Regions from separate parts of the Homo sapiens genome. Here region 1 is linked to region 2. Evidence: fine-mapped expression QTL. A gene starts in region 2. The other region holds a variant in brackets. All regions are shown on one strand. Distances are between the middles of the regions.

Region 1 (4,387 bases), 46 kb before region 2:
GAGAAACTTCTCTGTTTCTGCCTATATAAGTGAAACTTTAAATTCTCCACTTTGGAGCACTGACCCCATTCCTATGGAGTCTGTGTGGCCCAGAAGGCTGTCCTCAAACTTTGTGCTCAAAGAAACTCAATACTTAATCATATTTGCTGAATCTCCTTATCTCCGTGCCCAGGTGCTAGATGTGTGGCTGTGACTCAGCTGGAATGGAGGACTGGGTCCCTACTCCCTCTGCACCCCGGCTGTCTGTCTGCCTGTCTCTCAGACACAAAAGCACACACACACACATGCACACACACTCCTGCAGCAGGCCATGGTTTGTTTTATTTACTCCCCATCAGGTTGTCTCGGTGTGCTGTTGTGGTTTGACTGTGTCCCCTAAAGTTCATGTGTTGGGAACTCGATCCCCAGTGCAATAGTGTTGAGAGGTGGGACCTTCAAGAGGTGATTAGGTCGTGAGGGCTCTGCCTTCATGAATGGATTAATATCATTATTGAAGGAATGAATTTGTTATTCATTCCAGGGTGGTTGTTATAAAAGCAAGTTCAGTTCCATCTTGCTTTCTGTCTCTCCTGCCCTCTGTCACCATGTGCCATGTGGTGACACAGCAAGAAGGCCCTCACCAGATGCCACCCCTTGGTCCTAGACTTCCCAGTCTCCAGAACCATGAGCCAAATACATTTCTGCTCATTATAAGTTACCCAGTCTGTGGTATTTTGCTATAGCAGCATATAGCAGACTAAGCTGTGCTGATGATACATTCACAAACATGGTGCGGAAGGAGATTCCACCCTGCTTTGGTGCCTAGACTTCAGAGGCTGTAGGGCCAAGCAAGTTTCCTCCCATCTCCAGTTATGTCCCCTGGGAAGGCTGTTACACGTATGTGCCCTCCAAGCATTCTCTCATTCAAGCTCTGGGCATGAGAGGTGGTGGCAGGCCTGGATGGGACAGAAGACTTCACTCAGGCTATGTGGTGGGAACTGCCTGGCTCTCTGAGAACTACACACAGAACTTAACCTTACAAACAGCAAAATCTCAAGAAACTCTTCTCCCAAAAGCCCATGTCACACTTCAGCCTCCTTTAACTAAGGAGCTGTGGGGGCCCTTTCTCTTTGCCCAGCCCCCAGTGTTACCTTGGCCAAGGGAGGCACAACTGTGTTCTCCAGGTAGGTCAGCAGGCATTCCACAGCTGAAATATGCTTATTCAGCTCAAAGATCTGCAGCAGAAGGAGAGAAACAGTGGGCAGAGGACCCAGTGCACTCCAACCAGCAAGACACTGGCACCCACCACCTCTGAAGCACCAAATTCCCAAGAAGCGGAAGGAGAGCTAAGGCCACCACCCATGACATGGCCTGGGAAGGTTAATTGTGAAACCCATTTCTAACACCAAGAGTTCTGGAACACCAAGCAAAATCTTGGAGCGGAACCAAGAGAGGGGAGAGTGGGGAGGGTGAAAGTGGAGGAGAGGAGCCGAGTCCAGCAGGACAAGGAGCTGAATCTGGAAGGTTGTGATGGTGTCATTACTGTGGACAGCCACTGTCACTGCCGGTACCGAGCAGCACAGGAAGACATCAGTTAATTACGCCACAGTGATCAAACTCACAGTCATTAGCTAGCAAGAGCCTGGGGTCACTAGTGGGCTAGGAGGCAAGGCACTTCAGGTGACAACCTAAAGGGACCAGAAGTACAACTTCCTCATCCCTTGAGTCACCAGACTCTTGAGTCACCCAAAGTCTATTAGCTCCCAGACTGAGACATGATAAATCAATTTTCTAGTTTTCTTCCTCACCCAGCAGATGCATCTTTCCTGCCATTATCTCATTTACGGCTCACCTGGCTTTAAAAGAGGGAAATGGTGCTGTGGAGTGTTAAGATGCTTTTGTATTGTTTGGTCGGTAATTAGTTGAATCATCACAGCACCAAGGGCTTTGAGTGGGCAAATCTGCCCGAAGAACATGACTGGCTGAGAAATGTCAACACCAGGATTTCAGTTAGACCTCGGCCCACGCCTTGAGCGGCCACTAGTAACTGAGTCACCCTCTGGTCCCGTTGAGCATCTGCAGAAGCAGAGATCAATACCCTGGGGAGACAGCACTCAGCACACATCCTCTGTCTCCCGGAAGCAGTGGGCTTGGGGACTCAGGCAGATCACCTGAGGTCAGGAGTTCGAGACCAGCCTGGCCAACATGGCGAACGCCATCTCTACTAAAATACAAAAATTAGCCAGGGGTGGTGGCTCATGCCTGTAATCCCAGCTACTCGGGAGGCTGAGGCAGGAGAATCGCTTGAATCTGGGAGGTGGAGTTTGCAGTGAGCTGACATCATGCCATTGCACTCCAGCTTGGGTGTCAAGAGCAAGACTCTGACAAAAAAAAAAAAAAAAAAAA[AAG/G]AAAAGAAAATAGAGAAGAGACTTCCCACTGCCCCCTTGTCTTTCAGAGCTTCTTTCTCTGCTTTTTCCAAATACATATAAATCTTTAAAATGGCTAAAAAGCCTCTCTGCAGTCTCAAAACTCCACCTGGGAACTGTGTTTTTGAAATGGAAACATCCTTGAAGATAACTCTAGCTCCCACTCCCCAGGAGAGGGTGAAGAGTCTAACGTGGGTGGGCGCCTTGCTCCAGTTTGCAAAACTAGCTCCCATCTTAAAGATGTGTGAGAAGGTTGCTTTTCTTAGGGTTAAAGCCAACACAAGTGGTCTCCCGGTTATGATGCTAGAGTGAGGATGTACACTGTGATCAAAGGCACCATCAGCTCCTCTCATTGGTAAGGACTGGTGATGGTTTGTGCTGAGAACTGTGTGGAATGGGCCGGGCCTGCCGGGCTGCAGAAGGGCTGAGAGGCCTTCCTGTCTTTGCAATCTCTCAGCGGATTGCCTGGGGCACGTGCCATATTCTGGTTTGATGCTTGTTCAAGAATAAATCTGTCTTCTTCCTCTGCTACCCTTATGGAGAGATTTTCTGGGTAATGAAAAGATTTCGGGTTTTTCTAAAAATTATATTTCTCCAACAGTAACAACTGCTCTGGTGGGAGTAGCATCACTCAGACGTGGGCATCTGACCCTGTGTGGGCACCAGTCATCAGGATTATCACATTACTTAGATATGTACGGACAGAATACTAGGTAGGAACCCCTTGAGCTTTCAACTCGCGACAATACCAAAGTTTAGAGTTTACAAATGCAATACAGACACTAGCTAGGGATTAAAGCAAACCAACAAAATATGTCACTGGTGACACTTTTATGGGAAACCGTCAGTGTCTGTAGCCCGAGCACACACGAATGGCCCCAGGGCCGGCCCTTGGGAGTGAGGGGGCGGAGGGTGCGTGCCAGGGCCGTTTCCTCTCCCGTCTCCCATCTCAGCCCCTTAGAAACTTCCTTCCTACCACATGCTTGTGCCATCTTGGGCCTTGTCTGGGCTTGAACAATATCTACAGGAAGTCTTTACCCCTCGTCGGGAAAGCTGTGACTGTCAATACAAATGCAAAGGCAGGCAATGCACAGCTGCCTGACCCCTCAGATGAGCTGTGATAAAATACGATTCCTGAGAAAGCTCAGGCCCTGAGGGCATGGCTGGGAGTCTTGGGGTTGATGGGCAGATTGAGAGTGCTTCCTCCTGGGGTCCCACCACAGCCACTTCACAAAGGCCCCTCTAAGAGTCTGCCTGGGTTTTCTCTGAAGTACAGGATCGCTGCTGCATTTGGAGCTTCTTTCTGCTGCTTAATTTCCTCCATATAAAGATGCATGGGAAACAATCTAGGTGAAATATTAGTTGAGGTTGTCACATTGAATAATTCAAACAAAGCTGTTGGAACTTTAAATTCTGAGTCTTGAGAGGACATGTTTCACAGCTGAAACTTCTACTTTTTTTTTCCCTGTGAATAATTAAGACCAAACAGGATTGGAGATAAGGGCCCCCCAGGTCACTGTTCCTTTGCAAGGTTGTGATCCTGCTACAATTTCTACATAGGTGAAAACTTCACTAGTCCACTTTGGGCCCCATTTGTTTGAAGTCTGTGTTTCTGGGTGGCCACTGTCAAGCTTTTGTTCTGATAAACTTGATATACTAATACTTATTTATATTTTCTGAATCTCATTATTTAGGGTTGGCAAAGTAAATACAAGTTAATAGGAATAAATAAAGAGAAACAATTCCACAGGCAGGATATACAAACATGAACTAGAGAATAATTCCAAGCAGGTATAAAGGATAATTGGTTTCAGTGGGGCTGGAAACCACGCTATGTATTTTACTAAAGGCTACTAAAGTTGCTAAACTACAGGTTTACTGAAAATAGACAACTTGATTCTCCTCTTCATCCTGTTGTCTTCAGGCTAGGAGACTAGGAGATGCTCAGCCAGCCAAGGATGTCCCATGGGTCTCTACCTGGC
Region 2 (4,387 bases):
CCTTAATCCTTTGTGGCTGTTTCCCGAATGCTGCCGTCCAGGTCAGCCTGTATGGTTATTTCTATAGGTGGGGCCCATCAGTAGGCACTGACCCCCAGCTCTCATCAGTGGCTAAATGAGCACATTTCCACCTAGAAGGGCCACTCCCTTCCCTACAAGTGAACCAGGCACATCTGTGCTGTAGCCACAAGGGTCTGGAATGGCCCCAGCAGCAACAGCACTGGGAGGGTGTTCTGCCCCTCAGCCACCTGCCCACCAACTTGCCATCCCCTCTGCTCTCCCAGTTCTCTGGGGAGTTGGTGGTAAACCTCATTTATAAATGGACATGAGTTCTGCATTTACACCTAAAGCCTCAGTGCTAGTCTCTACCGCAAGGATGGGTCCCAGGTGAGGCTGTAGGAGGATGGTGCTGAGAGGTGGGAGCTGGGTTCCCATCCCAGTTCAGGCACAGCCAGCCCAGCCACCTGGGAAAGATGCCCCTCCTCTCAGGGTCTTAGTTTCCCCATCTGTACCATGGACAATGGCTGAGCTCCAAGACCTCTCTGGCCCTCTCCAGCCCTGGATGATGCCAGGATGTTGAAATTAAGAGGGGGAGTGATGGTGTGGGGGTAGTGGGGAGGAGTAGGGGCAAAGACTGTTCCTCCAGAGGTTGCTTCTGAAAAGAACAAGACAGTTGGCCCTAGAAGGCTGCCCCAACCACTGAGACTGGGGCTTATTTGAGCCGTTATTGCATTGTGGTTGAAAGGCACCAATTTCACTTTTCCCATTAGCCCACAGGGCTCTGGGACACTTCCACCACCTCCAGCCCCTCACTGGGCACACATTCAGCTGGTTTGTTTTAATTTTTTTCTGAGTCACTCATGTCGTACTCAGTAAGACCCACTGACTCCCCATGTGTGTGCCGGGCACCATCCCATGTTCTCTAAATGTGTCCTCAGTCAATCCTCTGAGGCACCTGCTACTGTTCTTAGAGCCTGAGTGAGGGCCAGGAGCACAGTGACCCATGCCTGGTACTTAGATACTAAGGAGCACGGTCCTGGGCAGGGAGGGGGCTGGGCCCAGGAAGGCTGAGGCCTTACTGAGGTCAGCTGAATCCCGCCAATGAGCAGGTGGAGGGATGTGTTTCCTAGGACAGATGCAGGCCAGCTGGAGGGATGGGTTTCCTAGGACAGATGCAGGCCAGCTGGAGGGATGGGTTTCCTAGGACAGATGCAGGACAGCTGAACCCGGGGTGTCAATGTCACTGCTCAGCAACGCGGTCTGCAAGTCCAGAAGCCTTTTCCTGAGACTTCACAGCCCCCAGCAATGCTGGCCTTTGCACCTATTGGGAGCCTTGCTCTCCCCCGACTGTCATTTCACTCCCTCAGAAAGAAATAAGTGAAGAAGATACCAGTCACACCATCTAAAAAAGGACCTGTCCCAAGTTCCGTGTGGAAGTGAGGTGGAGTTTCCAGTGCCAGTTAATGTCAGTGGGACGCGGTGTCTAAGCCCGGGGAAGGGATTTACAAGTGAGATTCCGTTCCTGTAGGGACTTGGGGCTAGTAGGGACGAAGCCCACAGGTGCTCACAGCTCACAGACCCTTCCCACATCTCTACTTCCCACACCTCCCTGGTGGGCCCAGGGAGTCTGTCTGCAAACAAAAGGTGATTCCAATAAAACAGACTTTTAGACGCCCAGAGGAAGCCAGGTGCCTCCTCCCAGGCCAAGATCATCTGGCCTCTTCCTCACCCCAAGACCAGCTCCTGGGCTGGGAGGAAACCTTTCCCCTGGGGCCAGCCTACTTGGCATCAGCAGCCTTGGCCCAGTCTGCATGGCAGACTCGCAATGGAGGCAATGGAGCTTCTGATTAAAACCAACCGTTTTGCCCAAAATGGGGATCCCCCGCCATCCCACTCCCACCCGTGCCTGCACCCAGAGCAGTCTGCTCAAAGAATCCAGGTGAAGCCTGGGGGACTAAGGCTGGGTGGCTGGGAACGCGCTGTCCTCACCAGCCTGGACCGAGGCCGGGAGGCTGGCGGCTGGGGGCGTTTTCACACCAGTGGGTCTGCACGCGACACCGCGCACCCCCCAAAGCCTAAGCCCCGAGTCCTGGGCGCCACCCTGGCCCCGCTGTTCCCTCTTCTCAGTGCACTCACCGGACCCTCTCCGGGGGACGCTCAGTCCCTGGTCCAGCACCTGGGAGAGAAAGGAGGCGACGAAGCAGGGCGTCAGGCCAGGGCGTCAGGTCAGGGCGCCGGGGCAAGGCTGGATAATGGGGGCAAGCAGGGCGCGGGGCGCAGAGCGGCTGGTTAGCGCCTGGCTCTCCGGGGCAGGCGGGCAACTGGCCACGTCCCGGCGCCTCCCGCCCGAACCACGTGGGCTGCGCCCCGCTCCGCCCAGCTCCGGGAGCGCGGACACCTCTGGATGCCCTGCCAGGCAGAGGGCGGAACGGAACGGACACCTGGGGCGCCCGCGCGGGAAGCGCCAGTGCGGGGGAGAGCCCCGGATACTCGACCCCCAAGCCAGTTTGGGGAGAAAGACGGCGGCGGGGAGGGGAAAGTTGAGCACACAGCTGCGATTCCCGTGAGTTGCGGCGACTTTGCATAGGTGACATCGCGCCGCGGTCCTGCCTTGGGCACGGTGGGACCCGCTTGCTGAGCGCGCTCTAGAGCGCGCGGCACATCGTCGAAATTTCTAACTCTGCAGGGAAAGCGCTATGTACTTCGGCTTTACAAATGGGGAAACTGAGGCTCAGAAACGCGCCCTACCAAAGCCACCGACCAGTAAGTGGCAACGCCAAATAATAAATAGGACTTTAAGCCCAGGGCTTTCTGCTGCAGAGAGCGTACCCTCACCCCTTCGATTCTGCCAGGCATCAGGACCAGGAGGGTCCCGCAGCCGCGGGCAGCCCTGCTGCGGGGAGGAGACCGAGGCCTTGCCCGCCAAGAAAAAGTCAAGATCCGCGGGCAAATGGGGCAGATGTGGAAGCCAGGACGCGCGGCGCGGTGGTTCCAGGACCGAGGACGCGCTGCGGGGAACGCCTGGGAGCTCCGCGCCGCTGCGCTCTTCTCCTGGACTCTAGGGCCGGCCTTTGGGTGCTCAGCGGGGCCCGCAAGCTCAGAGGGTCCCAAGGCGAGCCGCCGTCTCCAGTCCGCCCGGCCTGCCTGTCCTTCCGAATTCCAATGGACATTAGGGAATTGCCCTCCTCCCTCATCCTCCAAGACTGGGCGCTTCAGAATTTTCTCTCCCTCCCCCTCCCTCTCCCTTGTCACTTAAAAACTCACATTCTGTTCTCCAGGAACCGCTTTTGCAATTCAGTTTTCCTATCTGCAAAATGATAGGAATAAAGCCATTAGGTGAATGAATAGATACTAGTATCTCCATTTAACAGAAGAGGAATCAAAACCTTATAGGATTGTTGTGATATCACATTAGATTATTTGTAAACAGCTTTCAAAAGGCTGCAAAAGAACAAAAAAGAATGTTGTTGCCTGCTGAGCCCAGGGGAACACTGTAGGTGAATCAGGGTATTTCAGGCCCCTGGGCTGCTTTGAGACAGGTGCTCTTACCAAACACCATCAATTGTTGAGTGTGAACCCTGGAATAGAGTGAAGCTTACACTGAAGCCAGTATTTCCACATCCCATATGATCTGGTGCTTATGTTTTTCATTTCCTTACCTCCTTGCCATATACTTTACTGTTACTTGTTAAGATTAATAAATCCCTTAAGAGTTGATGTAGGGACTTAAGTTCCTTAAGGGCAGAAGTTTTTAAAAATGTTTTTAATACTTTAGTGCTTATTTATTTGAAGTAGTGGTTTTAAAAAATATACAACTGACACACGCTGATATATAAGGTATATAGTAAAGAATATAAGGAGTATAAAATGAAAAGCCAAATTCTCTCTTATTCCATTACTAACCTCCATGACCAGAAAGCAATCATTATTAATGGTGTCTTCTATATTCTTTCTGAATGGTGTGTGTGTGTGTGAGGTTAAGCATGTGGGCTCAAACCAACTGCAAGAGTCGGAATTCCAACTAGGAGTGTGGCCCACAAGCTGTGTCATCTTGGACCTGTTACTGAATCTTCTACTGACTTTTTTCTCTCTTCTCCATGATGAGAATAGTAATGGGAGTTACACATAAGGGTGTTGTGAATCAATATCCCTGCAGCTTGGGTGAGACACCATGTGGTGAGTGCTTGGTAAATATTAATTACTATTCCTGTTGATCTACTTCATCCTTTTTTGGTTGCAGAGTATCCAATGTGTGAGTTACCATAATTACTTACCAGTCTTCTATTGATGGACAGTTAATTTTTGATTTTTTGCTATTTAAATGATTCTGCCATAAATATCATCCTAGATAATTCTTATTGACACCTATCATACATAGGATGACACA

Which allele goes with the higher level. Alleles are on the strand shown, and positions count from the first base shown. SD is a standard deviation of normalised expression in the study named.
For the expression in skin of the gene that starts at base 2,323 in region 2, allele G in region 1 goes with a lower level than allele AAG (moderate effect, 0.46 SD a copy in TwinsUK).

The links. PIP is the estimated chance that this variant, and not a neighbour inherited with it, causes the effect. A credible set is the group of variants that fine-mapping cannot tell apart.
Region 1: its variant is the best candidate, but not a certain one, in a credible set for the expression of MLPH in skin (TwinsUK, PIP 0.70).

The regions. Positions count from the first base shown.
Region 1 is chr2:237,531,391-237,535,777 of GRCh38, reverse strand. MLPH (melanophilin) reads right to left here. Exons shown (of 16, transcript NM_024101.7): 9 at 1,131-1,214. Among named protein-coding and RNA genes, the nearest start is that of MIR6811, 23 kb to the right of the region's middle. The variant AAG/G (reference allele first, on the strand shown) is at 2,386.
Region 2 is chr2:237,485,187-237,489,573 of GRCh38, reverse strand. MLPH (melanophilin) reads right to left here and starts at 2,323. Exons shown (of 16, transcript NM_024101.7): 1 at 2,137-2,323. It overlaps LOC105373957 (a long non-coding RNA gene), which reads left to right and starts at 2,426. Exons shown (of 2, transcript XR_001739962.2): 1 at 2,426-2,763; 2 at 2,853-3,874. RefSeq lists an enhancer at 2,488-3,456.